4 linked regions of the Homo sapiens genome follow. The protein of the gene in region 1 interacts with the protein of each later gene in a pairwise test. Each region holds a gene or a part of one and is shown in the gene's direction. Other genes may lie near its edges. The genes, in order: ITPR1, EPB41L1, STARD13 and TRPC4.

What was found.
Region 2: the proteins of ITPR1 (region 1) and EPB41L1 interact in a two-hybrid assay, tested with the Homo sapiens proteins (one study listed by BioGRID).
Region 3: the proteins of ITPR1 (region 1) and STARD13 interact in a two-hybrid assay, tested with the Homo sapiens proteins (one study listed by BioGRID and IntAct).
Region 4: the proteins of ITPR1 (region 1) and TRPC4 interact in a two-hybrid assay, tested with the Homo sapiens proteins (one study listed by BioGRID).

The regions. Positions count from the first base shown.
Region 1 is NC_000003.12:4,671,326-4,678,353, forward strand, and holds part of ITPR1 (inositol 1,4,5-trisphosphate-gated calcium channel ITPR1), read left to right. Parts: intron 1-1,810; coding exon 1,811-2,062; intron 2,063-2,876; coding exon 2,877-3,018; intron 3,019-3,742; coding exon 3,743-3,923; intron 3,924-5,288; coding exon 5,289-5,476; intron 5,477-7,028. UniProt on the Homo sapiens protein: Inositol 1,4,5-trisphosphate-gated calcium channel that, upon inositol 1,4,5-trisphosphate binding, mediates calcium release from the endoplasmic reticulum (ER).
Region 2 is NC_000020.11:36,206,719-36,213,746, forward strand, and holds part of EPB41L1 (band 4.1-like protein 1), read left to right. Parts: coding exon of another isoform or gene 1-1,062; intron 1,063-1,582; coding exon of another isoform or gene 1,583-1,690; intron 1,691-2,769; coding exon 2,770-3,180; intron 3,181-5,553; coding exon 5,554-5,658; intron 5,659-6,618; exon of another isoform or gene 6,619-6,658; intron 6,659-7,028. UniProt on the Homo sapiens protein: May function to confer stability and plasticity to neuronal membrane via multiple interactions, including the spectrin-actin-based cytoskeleton, integral membrane channels and membrane-associated guanylate kinases.
Region 3 is NC_000013.11:33,275,749-33,282,776, reverse strand, and holds part of STARD13 (stAR-related lipid transfer protein 13), read left to right. Parts: intron 1-1,442; exon of another isoform or gene 1,443-1,748; intron 1,749-3,120; exon of another isoform or gene 3,121-3,316; intron 3,317-5,080; exon of another isoform or gene 5,081-5,223; intron 5,224-7,028. UniProt on the Homo sapiens protein: GTPase-activating protein for RhoA, and perhaps for Cdc42. May be involved in regulation of cytoskeletal reorganization, cell proliferation and cell motility. Acts a tumor suppressor in hepatocellular carcinoma cells.
Region 4 is NC_000013.11:37,740,770-37,747,797, reverse strand, and holds part of TRPC4 (short transient receptor potential channel 4), read left to right. Parts: intron 1-1,342; coding exon 1,343-1,861; intron 1,862-7,028. UniProt on the Homo sapiens protein: Forms a receptor-activated non-selective calcium permeant cation channel. Acts as a cell-cell contact-dependent endothelial calcium entry channel.

The DNA.
Region 1 (7,028 bases):
CTCACCAAATGTTTATAGACAGAGACAGAAGATGTGTGTGTTTGTATACACATATATCTACACATTCATCCATGTATCTTTCTATAACTACACAAATATATAATAAAAAGCATGTACTTACACTAATACTTCCAATTCCATTCCAACACCATAGGATTTATTCTAGCCTTCACCTTTTCCATTTCATGACTCCCTCCAGCTGCCACGATTCCCTGTATGTTTACCCATCTGCCCGTTTCCCTGTGTGTACCTGTCTCACCTCTGCCACCCACCTCCACGGTCCCCAGTGTCTCCTTGGCTCCAGCTGTAAGACCTGCCAGTCCTGCCACCTGAAGGGAAGGGAAGGGGAAGAAAGAAAGGAAGTGAACCAATTAATACTTTTAAAAGAAAAGGAAAGGGAAGATAAAGCAAGGCTTTTATTATTTTTTAATAAAATAAATAAAACTGCAGATAAAATGCCTTTTCTTGCCTCCTGTATTCTGTTCTTTCATTCATGTGTGATGTACGCATCCTATCCACATTCTCTGTGTGCTGCATTTGTATGCATCTGTAAATCATATGTAGTATTTTATCTCTACTTAAAATTTTATATAAATGGGACTGTACTCCAAATACCATTCTAAAACTTGCCTTATTTATTCAATACGGGTACTGAAGCCATATTGAATATATCTGCGTTAATAGAGATTAATCCATTTCTGTAATTTGGACTGTTGGATGATATTCTGTTTTATTGATTTATCACATTTTCATCGCTGTTTGATATTTGATCACATGCTGCAGTTCTTCATGTCAGGAAACATCTTCATTCAAATTTTTCTGAGTATATGTATGAATTTCCATTCCACACTGGGAGGTGGGCTTGGAGGATATTCATATTTTAAGCTTTACTAAGCAATTCTAAATTGGATGTGTCAGTGTACACACCCACCAGTTGTAGACGACAAGCTTTGTTTCTTCATGTCTTTGTTAACCTTGAATATCATGATGCTTTTTAATTTTTGGTAATTTTATAAGTGTGAAATAGACTCATGTCTACACTTGCATTTCCCCGACATCTAATGAGGCTGAGAATGTCTTCAAATCATGATTATTAGAAATACATAGAGTTTTTAATTCAGAAGGCAGTATTTTGAAAGCCTGTGGCTTTCTCGTTATTTCACATTTCAAGTATGTTTACTCTTTCAGTGTTTGATGAATCTTCTCCCAAGTGAATGAGAAAGAGTGCCTTAATTGGTCAGGTTCCAGTTAACAACATTCACTTGCAATTGGATGAAGATGAAAAGTGAGGAGTCTCCTACTTTTGTAAATGAAATGTTTTTTTACACGTGTAGGAATTAGAGTGACTTACATGATATAAGATCTTTAAAATGTTATAAAATTTCTAATTAGGCTGAATATGTGTGATATCTTGAACATTTCCTACATGGTCTTTACTGTATAAAACACAGCTGAAGGGAAAGAAATAGACAACCATCTTAGGCCTTAGCATTCCCCCCGTTTATTTTAAAAAGTAAACATTAAGGACCTAGTGGAATTAGGTCGTCACATAATTGCTCCAACACAGCTGGATAGACATGTGTTCCTGTTGGCTGTCAACCCACACTCTACTGCACAGCTTGAATAGTTCTTTTATCTGCTTGGTACCAAAGCCAAAATCCTGGTATACAAGAGCAATTTAGGGGTGTTGATGTATGAGTTTAGTTGGCCAAATGTCACTCCCATGACAGTCAGGGCTGCCCAGACGACCCTTCATTCATCCTGAATGATTTCTGGAGCGTGAGCTGTGTGCCCTTGTTCCTTCCTCTAGATATCAGCTGAACCTCTTTGCGAGGATGTGTCTGGACCGCCAATACCTGGCCATCAACGAAATCTCAGGCCAGCTGGATGTCGATCTCATTCTCCGCTGCATGTCTGACGAGAACCTGCCCTATGACCTCAGGGCGTCCTTCTGCCGCCTCATGCTTCACATGCATGTGGACCGAGATCCCCAGGAACAAGTCACCCCCGTGAAATATGCCCGCCTCTGGTCGGAGATTCCCTCGGAGATCGCCATTGACGAGTGAGCCTGGCACCTGAAAACCTCACTTTACATTATTCTGTGCGGCAGTAGATAGCCCCATATGGTCTCATTAAATCTTAGAAGAAAGATGAAGTGTTGGTTTTTTCTTCAAGCTTAAAATAAAATTAAGTGGATGGCAAATATTTTTTTCCTCAAGAATGTGAAAGATGGCATGATTATGTTTTTGGTTTTTGTTTGTTTGTTTGTTTGTTTGAGATGGAGTCTCACTCTGTTGCCCAGGCTGAACTGCAGTGGCGCAATCTCGGCTCACTACAAGCTCTGCCTCCCGGGTTCGTGCCATTCTCCTTCCTCAGCCTCCCAAGTAGCTGGGACTACAGACGCCCACCACCACGCCCGGCTAATTTTTTGTATTTTTAGTAGGGACGGGGTTTCACCGTGTTAGCTAGGACGGTCTCGATCTCCTGACCTTGTGAGCCGTCCACCTCGGCCTCCCAAAGTGCTGGGATTACAGGCGTGAGCCACCGCGCCTGGCCCCGATTGTATTTTTTATATCTCATTTATCTCCTCTTTCATTCTGCAAATATTTAAGTGTGTACTATGTGCCAAGCTCAAGAAATATATCAGTGAACAAACTAGAAAGCAATCTCTATGCTAGTTGGTGGAAGACAGACAATAGGCAAGATAAACGACTCAAATATATAGTTGGTGATATATGCTAAGGAGGGAAAAAATAAAGTAGGGTCAAGGGATGCCAAGGGTTAGGGGATGTTGACTTTTGAAGCTGAGTGACCCAGGAAGACCTCTCTGGGAATAACTTGAAATTTTGTTTCCTTTCTTTCTCCTTTCTTTTCAGCTATGATAGTAGTGGAGCTTCCAAAGATGAAATTAAGGAGAGATTTGCTCAGACCATGGAGTTTGTGGAGGAGTATTTAAGAGATGTGGTTTGTCAGAGGTTCCCTTTCTCTGATAAAGAGAAGAATAAGCTTACGTTTGAGGTAACTCATGATGAAATCTTCTATGTGTATTATCTGCCTCTCAGTGGTCATTTTTCTATGGGGCAAATAGAAAATATGTGAGTAGGTTGTGATTTTGGTCATGATGCTCTGGTTTTGTAATGGAAAGGAATTCAGCTTGGTTTTGTTCCAGAATAAAATAAAACGGATACCAGTCACATGGCTTAATAGTAGTTATGGGCTTAAAAGAAATATACAAGGTGACTTGAACCACATAAAATGATAGAACATCACTTTGTGTTAAAACTGACAAGAGAGAAACACTGTGCTTGCAATCTGCCATAGCTTAATCATTTGCAGAACATAAATCCTTGTTACTTCTGAGTTAACAACGTTTCTGAGACTGCTTTTGCCTTTTAAGAGCTGTATTGCTGAGGATCGCAGAGTGTTATTATCTGTGTCCTTATTGGGAATAACTCTGCTTGCCTGGTGTTAATATTATCCTTGGGAAGCTGTGTAGAGCAAATGATGAGGTCTTTTTTTTTTTTTGATTAGTCATCAGAGCAGATCAGTAGCTTTCCATTTCTTATTTTTCCTCCTTATGAAACAAAATGAAAATTTATCAGAAAGTGCAAGGAAAATACATGCCTTCTCTTACCATAAGGAAGGTCCAAGTCTGTCATTTCTAAACTGGTCAACATCAAATGGAATTGAAGGGGATGCAGTTTATGTAATACCGTCTTCTTCTTTTATTTTAATACAATAGGTTGTAAATTTAGCTAGGAATCTCATATACTTTGGTTTCTACAACTTCTCTGACCTTCTACGATTAACTAAGATCCTTCTGGCCATATTGGACTGTGTACATGTGACAACAATCTTCCCCATTAGCAAGATGGCGAAAGGAGAAGAGAATAAAGGTAACAATGATGTGGAGAAGCTGAAGAGTGAGTATCTGAGGGTGCCCATACATCTGAGAGATGCCCTCCAGCCTTTCCTGTTATGCTCATGTCATACCCTATATGTGATGCCACATCCTTTCTTTGTTCATTCCTTCCCAACTTTTCATCGTGAACATTTTCAAATACTGTGTAAAGAAAAGCGGAAAGAACAGTACGATGGAGTCCCACGTACCCATGACTTTGAGTCAACAGTTATTCACGTTTTGCTGAATTTTATTTTGTATTTATGTGTATTTATGTGTATTTTATTTTGTATTTATGTGTTTATGTATGAGTCGTGTGTATATTTTGTTGAACAATTTGAAAGTTACTTAACACTTTGAATGTTTATATAACAAATACATGTCCTATCATTGTTCTTGACATTCGTGAGACCCTTGATAATAATATTTGTTTAGGATGTAAGAAAATCCAGGCTTCTATCTTGGTGGCTATTTCCACTTTGTGAGAAGGACAATCTGCCTTTGCATGTTTATTTCTTCCTCGTTTTAGGGTCAGAGTAGGCAGATATTGGTATCATGTATCAATTATTGTTAACTGGTCTTCTGCAGCTAGAACAGAAAGAAATACATTGACTTATCTCTATTTGCTAGGTCTTGTGCTGAGTCATGTTGCATTATACCATTTAGTTCTTTTGTTGAGCTCCTTTATTTCCATTTTGTAGATGAGGAGACTGAGGCTTAGAGGTAGTATGGTGCACCTAAGGTCAAGCAGCATCAGGATTTGTACCTTGTTAACTTTATGTACCTAGTTCTGTGCTCATAACAAGCACATAGTTGATGATCAATAAAATTTGGGCAGGGCATAGTGATTCATACCTGTAATACTAACATTTTGGGAGGCTGTAGCAGGAGGATTGCTTGAGGCCAGGAGTTCGAGACCAGGCTGGGCAATATAGAGAGAACCTATCTCTACCAAAAAAAAAAAAAAAATTAGCTGGGTGTGGTGATGCATGCCTATAGTCCTAGCTACTTGAGACGTTGAGGCAGGAAGATTGTTTGAGCCCAGAAGTTTGAGGCCACAGGGAACCATCATTGTGTCACTGCACTCCAGCCTAGGTGATAGAGGAAGATCCTGTCTCTAAAGAAAATTAAAAAAAATAAAATTTGATGGGCAAGTTAGTGCACAGAAATGCCCCTCTGGGGATTTTGAAGCCCGTGATCTTTCTGTTGCTCTCAGAAGCCCAGATTTTTGATGTGCATTTACCTTTCCAGGTTTCCAGGGTCCTGAGATTATGTTGGAATAGGGATATGTTAAATAATTTCTCTCAAAGAGCCCCTGCCCCTTGACATATGCCTCTGAGCATTCTCTAGAGACATTGTGACCGTGGTCTCTCCTGGCCTTTCCTAGGCAGTAACGTGATGAGATCTATTCATGGCGTGGGAGAGCTGATGACCCAGGTGGTGCTCCGGGGAGGAGGCTTTTTGCCCATGACTCCCATGGCTGCTGCCCCTGAAGGCAATGTGAAGCAGGCAGAGCCTGAGAAGGAGGACATCATGGTCATGGACACCAAGCTGAAGATCATTGAGATACTCCAGGTATCCACTAGCTGGAGCTGGGGTAGGGAGGGTATGTCACAGAGGCGCCATTCAGATCCAGTCCCTCTGTTCTGATGGAGCCCAAGGCTTTCTGGGAAGAAAATGGGGGCAAATCCTTAGCTCATCCCTCCGTGTCATTTATGAGCTGGCTCCTCTTAATCCCTTTACTGCTTTCTCCTACCCTCCCAACATGGCCATGTCCCTCCAGCCATGTCAAGACTTGCCATTGTTATCTTAGCTTTCCATGATCATTGGCCTCCATGCCAACCCTCTGCCTAGAATTCACTTACCTCTGTGTCTCCATGTAGCTGCATCTCTGCTTATTGATCATAACTAGGTTCAGGGTTCCATCAACTTTGCAAAGCCTTCCTCCCTTCTTCCCTTTTTCATTCAATCAACAAATATTTATTGAGACCAACTCTGTGCCAAGTCCCCTTAAGCACTGGGAGGGTCCAGCAATGAAAAAAATAGATGAAATTCCTGCTTCTCTAGAATTTACATTTTGATAGAGGGGCATGGGCATGTATTAAGAATAAGTGCTAAGAGACGTTAAAAAGTAAAGGAGGGTCAGGATTGTTTGGAGACACTGAGGACAGGGGGCTGGGGTTATTGTGTTTGGTGAGGTTATCAGAGAAGGCCTCTCCAGTACAGTGACATGATTACACACCTGAATGAAGTGAGGAGATAGCCACACAGATATCTTGGGAAAGGGTATCTGAGGCAGAGGGAGCAGCAAACACAAAGACCCCATGGTGAAGAGGGCACATTTGGGAACAGGTGGGGTTCAAGAGGGAATGGGAGAAGATCAAGTCGGGGAGTAAATATATATAGCTTCTTGGACAGATTGCCTGTAAGGATGCACAGAGAAGTGGGGACATGGGCAGAGAGCGATTGTTGGTAACATGGTTTATTTTTGTTGTAATATTTTTTAAGTGGGTGGGTTATAACAAGCTTGTATGGTGAATAGGAATGATCATGTATACAGGGAGAGTTTGTTGCTGTTTGGGGAGAGAATAATTGTAAGAGCAAAGTCCTTCTGTAGGCAAGCGGGGGTGGAATCTAGTATATAGGGAAGGCTTGGTCGTAGGCATGAAACCCTCCCAAGCCTCTCTACAGCTTTGAACCCCACCCGACAACCTGCGCTTCCCTCTTTCTGTGCCGTGTAGGTAACTTTTATTCATCAACAAAATCATCTGCTCCTTAATGGAAAGAATTATGTGTTAGCACCTTCTTTTTTTTTATCCCATGTTGCCTGATCTCAACCCCAACAGATGTAGTAGAAATTCATAAATGTTTAAGATCTGGGGGTTTTATTTTTTAGTCTGAAATCACCCTTTACCAATGCTTTGAAAGTTTTAATGGGTTGTCTCAAAGTCATGTAATTAGGACGATAAAGACAGCTTAAGTAAAGGAGAAATCTTACTGAATTTATGCCTGAGCAACAGTAGAGAAAGATTCCTTTTTTAAAACTTTATTTTTTAATAAATTTTATTTTTACTTTTATTTTCAATTTTTTTTGTCGAGACAAAATATACATATAAAATTTGCAGGC
Region 2 (7,028 bases), on another chromosome or scaffold:
GGACAGACGTTTGCTGAAGGCTGGGAAGATGCCCAGTGGGGAGTGGAAGGAGAGTTTCCCCACCTGACAGCCAGCGCAGCCCGAGAGGAAGGGACCCCCGTGAGTGGAGATTTGCTGGGAAAGGCTGAGGAAAGTCCCACAGAGGAACTGAAGAAGCACCCTCCTCACAGAGGACAGGGCGTGCATCCCGACCCCCAGGCCTGCGCCCTTCCTCGGGCCATCCCTCTGAATGTCAGGAAGCCAGTCAAACCAGACAGAGGCAACTTCCCACCCAAAGAGAGGGGAGTGGTTCCCACCCAGAAAGGAGGGGCTGAGCTGAAGGACCGCGAGGCTTCAGCATTTCTTCACATGGAGGTGATCATTCCCCTGCCAGCCTCCCCTGGTCATTCTGAGGACCTGGCAGCTCTGGAGGAAGCTTCTCCAAGCCCAACCTCCCATGGGTCAGGGGAGCCTTCGGAGCTCAGGGAGCCCTTTCTTAGACATGTCCATCTTTCGAAAGCCAGCCCAGAGCCCAAGGACCAAGTAGGGTTTGTGGTGTCCCCTGCCACAGGAGGTGAGCGCAGGCCTCCTCCCATCACCAGCAGAAAGCCCAGAGTAGTCCCTGAAGAAGCTGAGGGGCGCATACCTCTGGGGTTTGGGTTCCCTTCAGGGAAGCGAAGGGAGATGACCTCTTTCCAGGCTGGGGACCAAGAGGGCTCCCTAGAAGATATTAGCAAGACCTCAGTGGCCAACAAAATTCGGATATTTGAGACCCACGGAGCTGAAACTCGCCGAATGAGTGAGGGTGAAGCAAGGTCCCTTCCAAATGACGTATCTTCAGAGGCACCCGTGGGACAAGCAGAGCAGCAGCGGAGTACGCTCTCAGACCTGGGCTTCGCCCAACTCCAGCCCCCAGGGGACTTTGCCAGCCCCAAAGCCACACATTCCACAGTGATACCTCTGGCTACCAGACACTTCAGGGAGGACACTTCTGCATCCTACCAGGAAGCACACACGGAACTAGAGCCCGTGTCCCCCAATTCAGGCTGTGAAACCACGCTGGCAGAAGCTACTGGAACTGGGGTAACTGGCCGCGTGAGCCCCCGCCCCCACCGCTGCTCCCCGCCCATGGGGGCTGGCCGCATGCTCTGTAGTTTTTAGAAGCATGTTTCAGTGGCCCCTCGTCATTTCTGCAATCAGAGGCTGCTTATCCATCCCTGTGAGTTTTTTCCCTAAACGGGCCTGGGTGTAGCTCAGGCTGAATGATGGGCTTCTCTGCTTGGCCCATGTTAGCTTGGCCACAAAGACCCTCAGCTTTTGGTGTGACCTGGTGCCCAGAGGGTCACACAACCCCCATGGAGAAGGTGGCGCCACCACCAGCAAATGACACACCTGCTTTGCCTTGCCGCTCATACCCGCTGGGTTCCTGCCTACCTTGCTTGGCTTGTCCAGCGATCTTTCTTCATCCTTTCCCATCCCTGGTTCTCCCGCCTTGGGAAAGTTGACAGTCCAGAGGTTTCCATCCTTCACTTCTGGTTCCCTCTCAGTCCCAGTGCCAAGTTTCTTTCTGCCTCCTTAAGACTAACTGTCTTCTCTAATCCAGAACAAATCCGGAGATGCGGTCAGGGAAGAGAAGCGCTCCACCAACTTAGCAGCCAACACCCCTGGGAAGGGGGGGCGCCTGAGATTTGCCAGCCCCTCGGGCCCTCAGGTCTCTGCAGCCCCTCTGTGCCCTGATGACCCAGTCACCTTCACCCGGCCAGGATGCATCGCCGCCTTAGGTTCCCACCTGCTGTGGCAGCACCTCTCGTGCTGCTCAACTCTGGCTTGTCTGGAATGTCTCCCTCACACCTCTCAACCTTCCAGAAACTGGCTAAATGGAGGCTCGCTTAGCAAGTGAATGTCTAAGCCCACTGAATCCCTAGAACCAGAAGCCAAGTTCTTTACAAATCTTTCATGGGTATTAGGTTGGTCTTTAAAAAGAATGTTATGAACCAGCCAAAAATGTGTGTGTGGTGTTTAATCCCTGACAGGCCAGTTGAGAGGTATGTATGTCGGACAAGAGTTGCTGGTTCCCCGAGGCACTGCCTTGGCCCGCTGTTGTCAATTACACTGATGGGACCAGAGCCTCTACTCCCTGACTTGCCTGTGGTCCACTCATGGAGCCCAGGGTGGAGCTGGCGTAGCACTCAGCTCCCAAGAAGCTCGTGCCCAAAAGGCCTGACCCTGAATTGCTCTTCTCTCTAGTCGATGCTGACCCCTCCCCCGGAGACTCAGTGGAATTGACAAACATGTTGGCTTCCTCTTTTGTTCCTCAAAGTTCTTGGCTCCAACCTCTCTGCCTTCCCTTCCTGGGTCTCCCTGAATCCCTGGATCTCCCTCCTTAGTTTCTGTTTCTCAACGCCCACCTGCACGGATGGGCCTGGGGTCCGGGCTTCCATCCCTGCCTTTCGTGCAATGCTGCTTCCAATAAGCTCCCAGATCCAATACCCTTGGATGGAGCCTCCTGTCCAGGAGTCACTGGCAGGACGTTTGCTTTGTACTTGCTTTTGCCATCAGTGTGAGACCCTCAGAAAGGGGCATCTCCACTCTTGAGTCGTTTTTGTTTTTTTTATGCTTGTTATGATTTCAAGGAACCTTTCCTGGGGTGTTTTTCATTTCCTGGCCTGCTCTTCCATTCAGGATGTCGACACAGCCCCGAGATTTCTCCTGACATTCACCATCTTGATTTCTCTTTCTCTCTCTCTCCCCACCCCACATCCCCATTCTTTTGATTTTATCTGGCCATAGAGAGCAGGGCTGAGGGAGGGCTCCGAGGAGAAAGTCAAACCACCACGTCCCCGGGCCCCAGAGAGTGACACAGGCGATGAGGACCAGGACCAGGAGAGGGACACGGTGTTCCTGAAGGACAACCACCTGGCCATTGAGCGCAAGTGCTCCAGCATCACGGTCAGCTCTACGTCTAGCCTGGAGGCTGAGGTGGACTTCACGGTCATTGGTGACTACCATGGCAGCGCCTTCGAAGACTTCTCCCGCAGCCTGCCTGAGCTCGACCGGGACAAAAGCGACTCGGACACTGAGGGCCTGCTGTTCTCCCGGGATCTCAACAAGGGGGCCCCCAGCCAGGATGATGAGTCTGGGGGCATTGAGGACAGCCCGGATCGAGGGGCCTGCTCCACCCCGGATATGCCCCAGTTTGAGGTACAGTGGAGCTTCCTCAAGAGCCAGGCCCGCTGGGCACCGCATGCTCAGAGGGCCCTGGGCCACCCGTGAGAAGACCGAGCACCCAGCCTGCAGCCTGAAGCTCTGTCTCGTGTTGCATGACTGCCCCTCCGCAGAACAGCATGGTTCTGTGCTCGCATGTTTGCCATCTCGGTTTACCCCTAACACGCGCTCCTTGGTATTTTAACCCTGTGACCCCATCGCTTGCTGAAGTCGAGCGATGACAGGTAGTCTGGTCTTTCTTGACCCCATGCCCCCCCACCTGTGTTGCATGGCACCTGCAGAGAGCATGCGTCTGTGGACTCTTGGGGGCTCCTGCAGCCTGGTCTGAAAGCTGAATGGTTTTTCCTGATCCGGGCCCAGGCTTGTCTCTCTGGGGTCTGGGCTTCCCGGGGAAGGGGAAGCAGTTTAAATCCATCTGGCCCTGGGGTCTCAGGGTGGTAATGGAAGCTCCTGGAAGAGAGGAAATGTGGTCATTGAGGAGGGACAGACTGTCTCTGGGCCTCTCTGTGGTCTCCTCTGTAGAGCTGTGAAGGGATTTCTCTAAGGCACGCCTGCCCATATCATTCCTTTGCCCCCTCATCTCTTCTAGACCCAACCTCCCTCCTACACTCTCCTTTCCCCAACATTCCTGGCATTGAAATATGAGCTTAGCCACTCTGGGCTCTCACTTCATGCTATATTCTCTGAGCAGGTTTTTTTTTCTCCCTTTCGGTGCCTTACAAACCTATCATGTTCCAGGACCAAGTTCAAATGTCAGTTTCCTAGCAGGGGTTTGCTTTCCTGACCACCCTGGGCAGAAATATCGCCCCCCTACCCCCTTGCCCTGTAATGCCTATGCTCCAGCACTATCCAAAGCGGTCAGGTCAGTGGCTGACAAGCCTGCTCTCCCACCAGGTGGCAGCTCCTCTAGGCCTGGCATATACTAGGCACTAATAGATGATTAACTGGATGAATGGCTGGGTTACAGGGTTGCAACCATCTATAAGAATCCCCTTCAGCCAGGCACAGTGGCTTGTGCCTGTAATCCCAGCTACTCAGGAGCTGAGGCAAGAAGGCAGGGGGATCACTTGAGCCCAGGAGTTCGAGGCTACAGTGAGCTTTGATCGTGCCACTGCACTCCAGCCCGGGCGACAGAGTGAGACCTTGTCTCTTAAAAACAAAACAAAACAAGAAAAAAAAAATCTCCAGGCACAGTGGTTCACACCTGTAATCCCAGCACTTTGGGAGGCTGAGGCAGGTGGATCACCTGAGGTCAGGAGTTCAAGACCACCCTGACCAACATGGTGAAACCTTGTCTCTACTAAAAATACAAAAATTAGCTGGGCGTGGTGGCACCCACCTGTAATCCCAACTACTCGGGAGGCAGGAGAATCACTTGAACTCAGGAGGCAGAGGTTGCAGTGAGCTGAGATCACGCCATTACACTCCAGCCTGGGCAACGGAACGAGATTCCATCTCAAAAAACAAAACAAAAACAAAAACAAAACTATACTCAGAGGTCATAGTCACAGCTTGCCATACCCAAATGGACCCCACATGCTCTCTACTTCACCCCAGTCCTCAACAAACCCTCTTCACTCATTGACATCTCCTGCCTGGATGCTGTAGGCCTCCAAGCATGTGTGGCTCTTGCTCTAAAGAAGAGTCCAGGCTGGGCACGGTGGCCCACACCTGTAATCCCAGCACTTTGGGAGGCTGAGGCAGGTGGATCACTTGAGGTCAGGGGTTCAAGAACAGCCTGGCCAACATGGTGAAACCCCGTCTCTACTAAAAATACAAAAGTTAGCCGGGTGTGGTGGCATGAGCCTGTAGTGCCAGCTACCTGGGAGGCTGAGGTAGGGGAATCGCTTGAACCTGGAAGGCAGAGGTTACAGTGAGCCGAGATCGCACCATCGCACTCCAGCCTGGGCGACAAAGGGAGAGTCTGTCTCAAGAAAAAAAATAGAAGAGTTCAGCTGAAGCGGCTGAGAGGTGGTGAGCTCACCAGGATTTGGTGACATTATGTACACAAGGAAAACACTTAGCCCAGGGCCTGTCATAGAGTATGTTAATGAAATGGTAGATGTTCTAATAGTAGCCTAAAAAACAGCATATAGCCACCATGAGGGTGTGTGGCACAGGGGCGCAGGGCAGGCCTGCCTGGTCCTGGTGGTGGTCCTGGCTCTCCTCGCGGGCTATCTGTCTATGATATCACACCACAACTCTTTTACCCTGTCCAGAGTACCCTTCCAGAGATGTGGCCAGCTGTGGGGATAGGAGATAGCCTGCAGACACCACACTGCAATTGTCTGTGAGCAAGGGTCATGCTAGGGTTTCAGTTACAGAGCATTCTCCCTCCTTTTCCTACAGCCCGTGAAAACAGAAACCATGACTGTCAGCAGTCTGGCCATTAGAAAGAAGATTGAGCCGGAGGCCGTACTGCAGACCAGAGTCTCCGCTATGGATAACACCCAGGTAACTTGTGCCTTCCAATGTACCCTAAGCATGGGTATTGGGCATTTGGTGGTAGGGTCCCCACTGCTGTGGCCAAACCCCTTGGCCAGCTCTTTTAATCTCAGCTTCCCTGGAACCCATATGTTAATCCTGATGCTCTCCTGTGCCTCAGTGTCCTCTCTGAGCTCTGGGGAGGGGCAACGGGTAAAGCAGGTTCCTGTCCTGGGCAGACCATACTTCTTAAAGCCTCCATTTAGCCATCCATAAAATGGGAATGACCCTGTCTACCCCTTCCTCCTGGGCATATTGGGAGGACTGTACTGACTAGTGGATTGGGACCTTGGTGTTCACATTGCTTGGAGGAGTTGGAGAGGTTTCTTGAGGTATCTCAGGGGCTGCTTGAGGAGAGAAGAGGGAGAGATCCCAATTCAGCTTCAGTCAGAATAGCTCACCTTGGGTCATTTTTTATGCATTAGAGTTCCACATCAGATCAGTAAAATGAACAAAGTGAAAGAAGAAAACCGAAGATCATGTGTCTTGACAAGAAGCAGCATCCTGACCACCTGGAGAAAGCCGTCAGGCATAGGCACAGGCCCACGACTTCCAGTCCATTCCCTGCACTCCTTCCATGCTTTTTAAACTTAGGAAGTTAAGATTGAGGATCTGATAGATGCCCTCCTGGTTTTTCCTGGCCAGAAGAGCTACAATGCTAGGAGCTTTTTTGCTCTGAGACTAACCTTTTCCTGAAGAACTGAAATAAGACCAGGCACAGTGGCTCACATCTGTAATCCCAGCACTTTGTGAGGCCAAGGCAGGCAGATCGCTTGAGCCCAGGGGTACAAGACCAGCCTGGGCAATATAGGGAGACCCCAGCTCTACAAAAAATACAAAAATTAGCTGGGCATGGTAGCACATGCCTGTAGTCCCAGCTGCTCGGGAGGCTGATGTAGGAGGATCACTAAAACCCAGGAGGTCGAAGCTGCAGTGAACTATGAGCTATGATTCCACCACTGCATTCCAGCTTGGGTGACAGGGAAAAAAAGAGAGAGAAAGAGAAAACTGAAATAAGACATAAACCAATACAACATGGGCAATTCTTTTGTTTCCAGATTTCTTTCTCCCACTTTTATAATGATGGTAGGAGTTTATGAGGCCGTCTACTACAGGTCAGGACTCTTGAGTTCTGATGAGCTGTGTGACCTTGGGCAAGCTGCTTCCCCCACTGACCTGTTTTGTTTTAGTAACACGTGTTTCTGTTGTGTTTTCATACAGAAAAGTATAAAGAAACTAAAATTGGCCCTAGATCCCACAGCCCAGTAACCCTTATTGACATAAAAACAAAACAACAAAAAAAGTTTATAGTTATACAATTCAAGCAGAACAAAATGGGA
Region 3 (7,028 bases), on another chromosome or scaffold:
GGGATTACAAATGTGAGCCATTGTGCCCTGTCACTAACAGCTTTTAATCATTCCATTAATCATGTGCAAATAAAATTAATGACAGCATTATTTTCTGTAGTTTACAGGTTAGTATCTTAAAGTGACAGCCACATCACTAAAATTGTTTGCATTATTCTACTTTAGAGCTTTAAGATTTAGAATTATGTTAATTTGATTTAAGACATCATTACTTATAATTTCTCATGGTTGTTGGGAACAGTGGAAACAAGTAAGTTGCTCCCCACTGACCTCATTATAGTGAGATAATCATTGAATGGCGTGCACATGATTCAATAGCAGATACACTCATGGGGAGGAAAAACAAGGAGGAGAAATAAAGGAATCTTTGATGATGCATAGAATCAGAATTCATTATCCAAACCCAGGATGAATCTAAACTTGCTCATCTTAGGGTACACATCAAAACATACATGCATCATTTCTCTAGCCTGTTTTTTAGTTCTGGGGTTGCAATTCCATTTCAAAAGAGAGGAGATGTTTAAAAGAGGGTGTTGTTTTGCAGAGTGAAAGTTTATCATAAGTCATACTGCCCATAATCCCTACCCCACATTCTTGCTTGAATCAATAGGGAAATTGTTGTAGAGAGAGAGAATGGAAATAAGAATGGTCCTTATTTGCCTCACTGACTGGCGCTTGGGAGTGGATAGGAGAGAGGATGCTGGGGGTGGTGGAAGACCATGTTAGGCCAAGGAAAGGGAGAATTGGATTTTTTTCTAATTTTTTTTATTGTGGTAAAATACACAATACATTAATTTTGCCATCTTAACCATTTTTAAATGTATGGTTCAGTGGTACTTAATACATTCATAATTCATAATATCCAACCATCACCGCCATCCATCTCCAGAACTCTTTTCATCTTGCAAAACTGAAACTCCATACCCATTAAACAAGAATTCCTCATTCCTCCTCCTCTCGGCCTTTGGCAACCACCATTCAACTTTCTGTCTCTATGAATTTGACTACTTTAAGTACCTCATATAAGTGAAATCATACAGTGATTCACTTTGTGTGACTGGCTTATTTCACTTTGTACAATGTCTTTGAGGTTCATCCATGTTATAGCACATGGCAGGATTGCCTTCCTTTTTAAGGCTGGATAATATTCCATTGTATATCTATACTACATTTCACTTTCTGTTTTTTTATTAGTAGCCATCTTAATGGGTGTAAGGTGGGAGAATTGGATTTCTATGTCATTATTTGATGGTTTTGATTTATTAGTTCTACATCATTATTTGGTGGTTTTGATTTAGTGCAACATGATGGATGCACCATGTTTAAAGTCTACATACACACACACACACACACACACACACACACACACATATTTGGAAAACCCAAATGTAAGTAGAAACATAAATGTGATTGCTTGCTTTGTGAAAGAACTTATCACACTATTATACTTTTTATTTTATTTTAAATGCTTAGAAAACAGCATAATCCGGATTGCAGTCAAGTCCACTGAAGTAGGATAAGGAGACAGGCATCCAGGCTCTGTATAGAAGCTCCTTCGCTCCTTTACAGCGTTGAGTTCCAGAGCTTCACTGGACCTTTGGTTTTTGATGAGACAATGAAGTGGATGGACTATGATTGCTCAAGTTTATTCTGTGTCTCAGGTTCTGGAATCCTCTCTGTGGTTAAGTCAGCAACTCTTTGAACAGGATTGTAGAAAGCAGGGGAACATAAACGTAACATACTAGAACCTAAAAAGGCAACAGAGCGGCTTTATTATGTGGAATATATCAGTGGCTTACAATTGTTCTACAGTTTCTCAAGGAAATGGTAAAGTGGAAGTTAGGTTTTTGTTCTACCTCAGCAACTAATTTATTGTGTGATCTGAGAGAAGTCACAGCTTCTCTAGACCTTTTTCCCTTCTTCCATTAAATAAAGGGTTTGGATTAAAGAATCTCTGAAGTCCCCATCATCTCTACATTCTAGGATTCTGCAATCACAAGTATTACCTTAAGACAAAAGCAATGCATATTTACATTTTTCTTATTATGTCATTCAGCATATACCTGGACATGCTTCCTTGAAACCTGTGTCATGCTTTCATTAATATCGATGTAATAGGAATGTTAGGAAGTCCAGTCTGTTGAACTATTTAAATGTCAGTATAACTATAATTATACAGAAACTTGTAAACACCTTTCTTTCTCCAAAATCCAGGCCTGTAAAGTGGAATTGTCTTGATGCCTGACCTATAGCAAGGATTGCAGCTACTGAAGGAAGTCCGTGTGTGTGCCTCTTACCTCACAATACAACCTCTTTCTTTTCTTGATAGAAAATGTGGAATGTAGAAAGTTTCACTACCGAGAAAGTAGTGAAAGTTAAACTGTCATTTGAGTTGCCATTCTATCTGAGGCTATTTTTAAGTAGATATGGCACCTGATTTGAACTCAACTGGAGTGGGATATACTGCCTTTTAAAAATTTCCCCAGAGAATGCCAGTGGGCATGAGTGATGTATTCCCCCTCATTACTATGTCAAAAGGCATCTTGGGAATTTGCCCAACCTAAGTGGTGAACATGGCCCATCCCCATGGCCCATACCCCCAGCAACTGGGTAATGTCAGCCTAAATTAAGCAATCATTTGTTCTTTTGGAATTGCCCTTTCTCTATGTTTAGTACTTTCTTGCCCGACTACTTTCAAACCTGGAGGGTGAATGCACTGGCAGAAAGACAGATGGAACACAGGAAGCAGGCTGAGAATGCATCAGTCATGTATTGCTCAAGTTCTGTCTGTTTGTTTTTTTTTTTAAGAGTGGCAACTGTCATAAATTCACATTTCATGAATCAGAGCCTCTTTCTACTCAGTGCTGGTGTTTGGAGGGCCTGTACAGAAAGGATACTGTTTAACCAAAATTACAGGAAAATCTGCTAAGTGAATTAAATTAACTAACTTTGACTAACATTTTAAAAATTACTACATAGTAAAACTAAAAGAAGTCAAGAAATGAGTACTGGGAGGAAATTAACAAAAGGACAATATGCTTGTAAACATATAAAACTTGAGAGTTTAACTTTAACCAAATTGTAGGTTCAATAGCTACACATCATTGCTTTATAACTCACACATTGGCCAGGGTGGCCAATCCATTGGAGTTGCCTGGAGCAGCACATGACACAGTAGCACAGGGTGTACAGAGATGGGTATTTGCCTTGTGCCTTCTTCTGTGCCAATCGTCCAGGAGTTACTCTGTTGGCAGAATGTTGAAACTTCTGTTGTTCAGATGCAGACAGTTGCCAAATTTGGGTTCTGTAACTTTAGCTTAAGTAAATAAAAATTCATTTTTTAAAATGTCTTTCCCTCTCCCACCTTCCCCAATCATCAGTGCTTTAATTCTTAGCAAATTTTGGACAATGGTCAACTCTTACAATGCAAAATTCCTCATTTCATTAGCAAATTAATCATGAACACAGAAACACAAGTTAGAAAAAACAGTCACTGCTAGTGGTCTTAATAGTATCAATTGATGACCTAAAACAGATTTAAAAAGAGAACAAATGATAAGTGGGTTTTGGCAAAACTCTTATATAAAGGGACATAAATAGATGGAGATTTAGTGGAGACATGTCATTAACAAGAGTACACACTTTCTCTGTGTTTCATTAGCTATGACAACAGGGTAGTGAGGCAATCAAGAAGACTTAAGAAGATAGGAGAACCTGAACATGCATTGCACACCAGATATTTGAATGATCTAAAGACCACATAAAAAATATTTGCCGTCTCCCTTGGAGCAATTGAAATATGATTTTGGTATGGGGAAAGATACTATATATTAATTTACATTCCACCTCATTACCTAGAGGATTTGAGGTCATTTATAGAAGAATATATAACTAAAGATTGCAAAAAAGATAAATCTGATGAAAAGAGAAATGTTGGCCAATTAATGAGGTAAAACTAGGAAGATATATCACATGGAAATATAAAATGTAAGGCCTTGAATAATAATCAAAAATGGGCTGCAAATTTGGCTTGAGCTTCCCTGATCTAAGCAAAGAGGAAAACACAACCAAGGGAAGATTTTCCCTGTTCTTAAGGTAAGAACTTACCAGCCAAGATTTTCCTGGGACTTGCTCTTTGGGAGAATTTTCTCCCAAGAACTTGACCTATGAGAGGAATTTCTCATACAAATCTCATAAAGGGAACACTGCAAGCTATAGTGAATGGTGCCTTCAACCATGCCTGCTGTGAATTCAGTAGTGAGTCTCATTTCTTATAACATCCTGCAGTGGAAATGGGGGCGTCACAATAAATTATAGTCCAGTAGAAATATTTGGGTGTGGGTGGGTGGGTAGGTAAAAACGAGAGGTCAGGTATGCAGTCTTCAGATTCTCTGTCTTAACCTAGAAATAGCATGGAGATTATCCACAGGCAATTTCTATAAGTCTGCTTCACAGAACACTAGGCCCATTAGACAGATATTCAAGGGAGAAAACATTTCTGTGGTTAAGTCATTTTTGGAAATGCTACATTCCCTTTCCCTTGGAAATTCAGACTTATGAAAGGCTCAGGAAAATCTTGCACAAAGTAGTTTAACTGTGTTTAAACTGGTATATTTCATCTTGAAACCACTTTTCACAGGATACTGGGAAGTCACATATTGCAAAACCAGCTTTCCCTGGGGAACACATTTTGGAAATGCTGATCTAGGAGAGTATGTGGCCTACGCTTCCCTTAGATAATTCTCTCTGAATATACTTCTTGCATAGATTTGGCAGTAGATACTTTGAAGTTGTGTTTTGGAGAGGAACATTGCAAGTATTCTATGTTTTCCAAAAAGGCCAGCCACAAATACTTTAAAAGTCAACTGAGTAAAGGCCAGATGACCATCTTTTTATGAAAATTAACAACCACACAAAGATTCTATCTTGGGTAGGCAGAACAGAAAGCTGAGTCGGTATATGGGTAGAGTTAATAATTATAACATCAAGAATACAACCATTCCTCAAATAACTCTACAAGATAGGTACTGTTGAGCCAGAAGGAAGAAATTATTGCCTTCTAGCTCTGGCTTTGTCTTACCATAATGTAGTTGAAGTCCTGGGTGAGGTCCAAATGGTTCTAACATTAATGTAGCTAATTCAGGATATTCCATTACTGCTGGGAAGTGGAGTCACTGCCCCACAGGAAAGAAGCAAGAAACTCTTCAGAAGTCTTAGAGTCTCCTTTGCCGTGGGTGACATGGGATATGGACTCACTGAAGCTCAGGCACTGATGGGTGGCTCCGAGAATTTCTGAATTCATGGTCCAAAAATATCTTTGGTTATATAAAGGCTCTCCTAGTATGACAGAAAGAAGTGAATGAAGTAAAATTATGTAGATAATTCTAATTAGTAAAATCTGCTTGCTTTAGTTATGGAGACAACTTATCAATTTCCAGGAAGTCTACAAATATATTCTTCAGATGTTTTTCCTCCTGCTGGCAAAGAGATACACATTAGCATTCACATTATGAATGACGCTTCTGGAGAGAAATCACACAACATCCAAAAACTCCAACAGAATGCATAGGGAATTACCATACTGCCTAGCCCAAGCCGCCACACTGTGAAGTCACTCAAGACCATGGTGGTCATTCTGGACTGGTGCAGTCTAGGGAAGGACCAAGTACCATGAAAATTTATATACTACTGTTTGAAAAGACATGAATTCTCTCTCTTTTTTTTTTTTCAGAAGCTTAGGATCTAAAATAATCTAAATGGAGAACTTGGAAAATAACTTCAAAATTACAGAAAATGCTAATGCTGTTAGCAAAAGAAAATCAATAGAAATAGATCTACAGTGTCTGGCTAGACTGTCAAATGATTTTCCTCACACAGCATAGGAATCCTGAGAATTTTAAAGGTCTGACAGAGGCAGAGCTTACTAAAATACAAATGATTTGTGTTGCTTTGCCTCCTAACAGTTGGATAAAACACAAGGGCGAAACAATGCAGAGAGATTGGAAAGGAACTTGGCAGTCACCAAGTACCTAATTTACATGTCAGGATTTCGAGCTGAAGTAGGCATTCTCTTCCTGCATTCCAACTCTCCCCTTCCTGCTTACTTCTGAAAATCATACATATGGACAGCAGGAACCTTTGATTAGTATTCAATCTCTATGAGTGAACAGTAGCATTTCATATACATTTATATTCACCAAACGACACACTGGATACAAAAAGTATGTATAGTCATAAAATCACATTTTCCTCTGAGAGTTATACCACCCTGAAATTATGTATAATATGTAAAATTATTATAAGAAATAAGAACGATTCACAAATCCTGCGTTAATGATATTCCAACGATTCTCACTCAAATAGACGGAGTTCTTATTTGAGAAAATTAAAGAATCTTCTCCAGATGCTTTGAGGGACACAACACATTTCCCACTACATGCATTTCTCAAAATAGAGTGTGAAATCCATCGCAAGGCCCTTACTGTCTGGACTTCTGTAAACCCATGCGTTATGTTTAACAGGTTCTTAATCATCAAACCACCTTCATTTTCACCATTGGTCTCTTTCAGATAGGAAAGTCTACTGACCTCCTTCCCTGAAAATTTGGATCCTCATATTAGCATTCCATTCCACTTGCTGTACTTTTAGTTGGAAGGTCTAAGGCAGACAAAGCTGCTTAAATATTTTTATCACTGACTTCCTAGAAGAAGGAGGAAAAAATCTTGGCAAGAAGAAGGGAAATCAGTCTTGCAGAATATCTTGAAGAAGCCTGCGAAGGAATTCCACTGACTGTGTTCATTATCTATTGGTCCCAATACTGAGTGGAATTTTTATGTGTTATCACTGGCCAGGGTGGCCAATCCATTGGAGTTGCCTGGAGCAGCACATGACATGGTAGCACGGGGTGTACAGAGATGGGTATTTACCTTGTGCCTTCTTCTGTGCCAATCTTCCAGGAGTTACTCTGTTGGCAGAATGTTGAAACTTCTGTTGTTCTTAGGAGCAAATAATTGAAACATGTTGGTTGA
Region 4 (7,028 bases), on another chromosome or scaffold:
ATTAAATAATTGCATACCTCTGTAAAGGATATTTTAAATCGATAATTTCATTCCTATTATCTTTAGTGTTTCTCATGAAACCAATGGATATCCTATATGGCCAGATGACTTTAAAATGTGTGTAATTGTCCACATATAAAAATGTACCTATATTTAAAAGTAGCATTAATGAAGTGTCATCATGAGTGTCGTTTTTCTCCATATGGTTTTCCTCTGATCCTTTTGTGGTTTCCTTCATTTTTCCAGCAGCATATTTCAATGTGACGTGAGTCATCATTTTTTTTTGCCATGCCTGTTTAACTGCCCTTATGTAGCATTAACTTTTCATAAATGCCTCTATGGCTTTGTGCCAGCAAAAATAAATAAACTAAAAGTGCTAAAGCAACATAGTGCAGTGCAATTCACTCAGGGTTGGGTGTCAGACAGGTGAACCTGTGTTTATTATATAAGGTCTTTAAAGTATGTGGAAATTGCAGATCAGATTGTAGACCTTCCACTTACTCACTGAGGAACTACATCCATAAAATGTGAATAATAAAGGGTGAGGGTTAATGTACCTGGCAGATGCTTACTAAATGGCGGCTATTATTATTTTCATCATTACCATCCCTAGAGTATAACCCAAAGGAAATCGTGCATAAACACATTGGTGACCTGATTCAGTGGAATTCACACTGCTGACTCGACTCAATGCTTGCTTATTTCTAATAAAACAGTAATGCTAGTTATGGAGCACCTCTTGTCATCTGGAAAATATACCAGAAAAGCACAGATGAAAAGAGGAAGCATGAGGCCAGCCCACTTATTTTTGCTGCCACATTTAGTCACTAGGCTGAATGATAGGAAAGCAGAAGCTAAAACACAGTAAAAACAAACAAAAGACAAAACCTAATTGAGGAATTAAAGGACTTCTACTGCAGAGAAAGAGCTTGGGTTTAAAACAAATCATTAGCTGTTTTTGAGTGTATTTCTTGATTATTTTGGACCTCAACATCTCTGAGAAAGCAAAGAAAATAGTGTCAGCTGGAAAATAAGTTGGGCTTATTTAAAAGAAATAAAGACATTCATCAAGTAAAGAGTTTCCATAACCACCTATTTTAAGATGCTGTAAAATGTCATAATTCAGATTAAAAAAAGAATAATGCATCATATTGGAAAGTTTTTTTTTCCAATTTTGTCTGGTCTTTTTGTAGGGGAAAAGACCATATCTCTCCTACAAAAAAAAAAAAACCCGGCCAAGGACATATAAACCCTGTTCCATATTGCTATAGCATGGTGTATGAAATTCACAGACTTGAACAAAAGAATAAATATTCATCACCTCTGCCTTTTTTTTTTTTAGGTGCCTCCTATACTCCTTGATAAGCAGTTCTCTGAATTCACTCCAGACATTACACCAATCATTTTGGCAGCCCATACAAATAATTATGAGATAATAAAACTCTTGGTTCAGAAAGGAGTCTCAGTGCCTCGACCCCACGAGGTCCGCTGTAACTGTGTGGAATGCGTGTCCAGTTCAGATGTGGACAGCCTCCGTCACTCACGCTCCAGACTCAACATCTACAAGGCCTTGGCCAGTCCCTCTCTCATTGCACTGTCAAGCGAAGATCCTTTTCTCACAGCCTTTCAGTTAAGTTGGGAACTTCAGGAACTGAGCAAGGTGGAAAATGAATTCAAGTCGGAGTATGAAGAGCTGTCACGGCAGTGCAAACAATTTGCTAAGGACCTACTGGATCAGACGAGAAGTTCCAGAGAACTGGAAATCATTCTTAATTACCGAGATGACAATAGTCTCATAGAAGAACAAAGTGGAAATGATCTTGCAAGACTAAAATTGGCCATTAAGTACCGTCAAAAAGAGGTGAGTGTTGCCAGACTTGATCCATCAAAATGCCATAGAGTTTAATCACAGTGAAGCAAACTGCTACTCACAAAATTAGTTTTGGGTTTTAGAGCATTTTCTATTCAGCTGTAAGTGGATGACATTTATTGTCTACCGGATTAATAATTATGAATCACATTGAAGAGTGGTAATAAATGGTTTAATAATTGATGTTTTTGGCCTCTGTCTTAAAATGTACACATTGACTGTGGTATAATGGAAAAACTAATGAATTTTAGTATGTCCAGACTGAGATTTCTGGCTCTGCTATTTATAAGTCTTGTAACTTTAGGGGGTCACAGATAGATTTCCTTAAGCTTCAGTATTCTCACCTGCTGAATGGATTTAATATTTGAAATTATATATATATATATATACGTATATATACATATATACGTATATATATACATATATACGTATATATAAGTGTGTGTGTGTGTGTATATATATATATATATATATATATATATATATATATACGCATATATATATATAAATAATCAGCCTTCTGTATCTGCAGGTTCCGCATCCTTGGATTCAACCAAATGTGGATGGAAAATGCAGCATTCATAGGATGTGGAACATTCAGATATGGAAGGCTGATTTTTTCCTATCCATGGGTCCCGTAGGGCCAACTGCTGCAGGGCTAGAGCAGCCATGGATTTTGGTATCCACATGAGGTCCTGGAACCAATCCCCCACAGATGCTTGGGGACAACTGTATATATAGACAACATTTTCCTCACAGGTTTTTAGGAAGTGTAAAATATGTGGATGTGTGAAGACTCTTAGTAAATTATATGGTATTGTTTTATTTATATCAGTAAATACTTATTATAAAGTGTTAATAAAATAAAAGACTTTAGTACAATAGCAGATGTAAGTACTAAAACTTTTCTCATATCTTGCTCATTTTTTTGATTTGTCAGGAATAAGAAACCAAGTAAGTTCATCGCAAGGGAGTAATAAATTTCTTGTAAAATTTCCATATATTAAAAATGCTGTATTAAATAACAGAATCTCATACTTCTTACCCTTAATCAGCCAGCATAATTGCTTTGTGTTTGAGTGAGTTCTCAAAAGACTGTTTACATCTATCTGAAGAAAATATTGGTTCTCTGTTCACTCTTAAATGATAGTAATTATCTATTCCAGAACAATACTTGGAAATGCTATGTAAGATGAAAAGAGAAAGAGAAAAAGTGAAAGACTTCTGAATTGTAAAATGTACTCAGTTTCTTTTGAATTTGGCCTTAATGATCCCATATAAGCCCTGGCTGCTTTGTCTGTTGCTACTCACTAAATACTCAAGGTTCAAGATACCTGAACTTGCTTTCTCAATTTTTTCCTCTAGTTGTGTGATTAGTTAAGCTAATCTGGTTGTCATGGAAGCCTGAAACAAGGTGAAATGAACTTTTCCCTTAATACTGAAGTGAACAGCTTCTTTTGTGTCCATTCCCTCTAACTCTAAAATCACATTTGCTATTTTGAGTCCTTGTCAGCAGTATTAACTCATTTTCTTAGGTTTTTATGTTTTGGACTCAGAGATCTAATATTTTAAAGAAACTAGAGTAATTTTACTACACAATGATAAGATACATTGATGAAAGATGTTCAAAGTGGTAAATGGGAAGATAAGAAGTCATTGCAGGCTTTAGACTTGAAAGATATTGAAATATTGATATGGCCTAAATCTTCTTAAAGATCCATATTAGCACAGTAGTATGCTTTGCTTTCTTTAGTTTTTCTTTGGAGAAGGGGGTTTAAAGAATCGACACGATGATTGCAAAGATTTTCTCTTATGCCATAGCTGTTCACTGTTAATATTATCCTACAAATGTTGAATGGAGTAAAGTTCCCAAGATGTACAATTCATGAAATGAAACAGAGAATGCAGAAGCAGCCTGCTCTGCTCACCTGTTGCTCTTTAGGTCTCTCTGCAGCCAGTGAATGAACTCAGATTTATTTTTTGCCTGCACTCATTTTGGTCATGGCATTGAAGCTGATTTAACGTCATCTTTGGCCACAATAACTTTTGTGAAAGCCTGGGAACAAAGTACTCATAAACTCCTTTACCATATCCTCATAACAGAATGCTGTCAATGATATTGCATTAACTGAAGCTGCCAAATTCCTGTCAAAGAGTTGTTCGAGATAGAAATTGTAATTTGAATTTCTTGCATATTTATATTTATATTTTTACCTGCAAAGTAATTAATACACTTTGGTCATGCATTAATTTCCTTAATAACTGTTTCAACATATATTTCATAGAACACATTCCAGGAAATGCACGGGGCACTTGGGATTCCCAGGTGTCAGGTCTCTGCTCTCATAGAGCTTATAGCCTATTAGGAGAGACAATGAAACATTGAATATATATTCTCCATTTTGTTCCTGAACCACTAAAAATGTTCTTCCTTACTGAACGTGTTTTCTTTGCTTATGTTCTTCTGTATATGTTATAAATATAAAAAGTGGTTTCAATGTCAAAACCTATGAAAAAGCCATAACTCTAATCCCATCTTCAGTATCTAAGAAGCAAAGCAATGGAAGGCATTTAATAATTTCCAACACTTCTCTCAAGATGTTTGTATTCTTGCTAATATGAAGTTATGGAAGGGTGATAAAGCCTAATAATACAAGATAAAACATAACAAAAAACATATAGCATGTAACAAAAAAATAAGAATTGGTGCTATTTTTTAAAAGACACTTTTCTTGTAGATATGGGGTCTTGCTATGTTGCCCAGGCTGATCTCAAACTCCTGGGTTCAAGCAATCCTCCCCAAAAGATACAATTTTAAAAGACATTGTATTGGGATTTTTTTCCTTTCAAAATGTTTTGAGATTTCAATGGAGAAAAAAATGAAAACGAAATTCTTACAGAGTTGTTCTGGAGTATCTTGCATTTACTATCAAAGAGAATATTTTTCTCTGATTGAAGATTTTCCCAAAGCAAAATAACATTGGATAACTGATAGCATTATTTAAAAAATTCAGGAATAACATTTTACTTTCATATATACCTTTTAAAATCATAAGTTGTGTTTTACCGCATGTATTCTTAGGTTATTCAGAAATTATTAAATTCAAATATTAAAGGTTTTCTAGTAAGATCATGTGCCTTAAAGAAAATTCTGCTTTAGCATGTCTTGCTTCATATCTTTCTTACCAAAAGTTTTCCTTGGTTTGGTCTAAATAAGTCTGAGATTTATCTTTAGTCCATCTCTCAGGATTTGGAATGCTTTCTCATTAACCTTCATTCACATAGCTAAGTCCTGCACACTCTTTAAAGGTCATCTCACGTCTTGTCTCACCGCAGGAGCATTCTATGAAGCAAACCCCTCCATAGACTCTCTTGGATAAATGTCCTCATTATACACACCCTATATTGCATTGTGTTATTACTTTTCCATCTCCTCCTCTAGGCAGTGTCAGGAACACATCCATCTTACTCACCAGTCATACTGTAGCCCCTGACATACAGAAGGTGCTCAGTAATGAATGCACCTGAATGAAGTCACAGATGCTCTTAGATCTGGATGGTTCCCTGCATGTTTCTTTGCCTGAATAAATTGCACTATTTGGGTTAATCTCCTAATAACAGATTCCTTATGAATCAACATATTAAAACAATTAATGTTGGCAGGATTTGATTGCAGACTTGTTCTGGTACTTCTCTAATCTCATCCAAAGAGAAAGCTCTGTGTTAATTTCATGCCATAGATATTTTTACATTTTCATTTTATATATTCTTTCTAAGCAGCAGCATCATAGAAAGAAGAATTGTATTACTTCTATTAATTCTAGGCTAATGATGCTGCAATTGTACTGATCATATATTAGCAGAACAAACATCTTCTATCAATTCAAATGAATGTATTTTAGCAACTGGGTTAAGTTGTTTACATGGTTTATTATATTAAACCTCCAAATACACTTCTGAAGTATGAACTATTTGTTGCTGTTTTTTTTTTTTCATGAAAAAATCGGAGTCACAGAGGGTTATATAATGTGCAGTGTTACTCTGTTAAATATTGGGGCCAGATTGCAAATCCAGATCTTAACTACAAAAACTTGGCTCTAACCATCACACCATATTGCCTCCACCCAGACATCATCCTGCTGAACACTGGGTAAACCTGAGAAAACTGACGCTGCTAGCCTAGTTTTGTTGAGCACATGAATTTATTTCATGACTCAGCTCGCCCGTAATGAAAGCCTTGCATTTTGACATGAAGTTTTCTTTGCTTTCACGTTGTGATGAAGCACTTGATTTCTCCAAAGAGTGTGAAGCCTACTTTCCCTTTCTTTCTTACTCCACTTTTACGTTTCTGTGTCAAACAATAATCTTTCAAGTACCATTCTGCGATGGGACAGGTTTAAGGTTTAAGGTTGCTCCCTTGACCAAGCACTCCCATCCCGATGCCAATCATCTAAATGAATAATAACAAAGGAAACTGGAAACAAAAAGCATGTAGTCATACCCTTAAAACTGATTCTTGCCCTGTGTGTAACATAAAGGCGAGGACGACTGAGGACATGTCTTAGACAAAAAACTTGTCCCTTGGTTTCTGGCATGATTTTTGCAGATGCAGAGTCTGTGGCAGTTAAAATTACTTCCATGTAGTCATTCCTCTTGCCTAATATTTGTAAGATTACTAAATGTGAATTGGAAGCTTAATACATTTCTTAACTATTTTTTACAGCAAAGACCTTCCGTAGTTTTTGTTACATGATTGACAATATTGTGAAGTAAGTAATTAAAAGGTAGAGTAGCCTAGATGTCAAATAAAAATAAAAAGCAAGGAAATAGATTATTTGTCTAAAAACATTACAATTCAAACTCTCTATAGCTTTTCAATATATTTAATTTGCCTTTCCCTTTCATGAAGGTATTTCAGCAGCTTTGCAACATTAGCTTAAATTTTGGAACTAATTTGGGTTTCGTCCTACACATTAATGGGATTGTTAAAGGAGAAAAATCAACATTTGAACAGCCCGCTGCTCATGACCTCCTAACCTTCTGTTTATCCAGTCTTGGGGGAATGGAGAAAATGTGAAGAGATTCATGTCAATCAGACACTATCCATGGCATGGTAAACTAAATTGATTCAAAATGTTCCACAATTACAGCTCTTTAA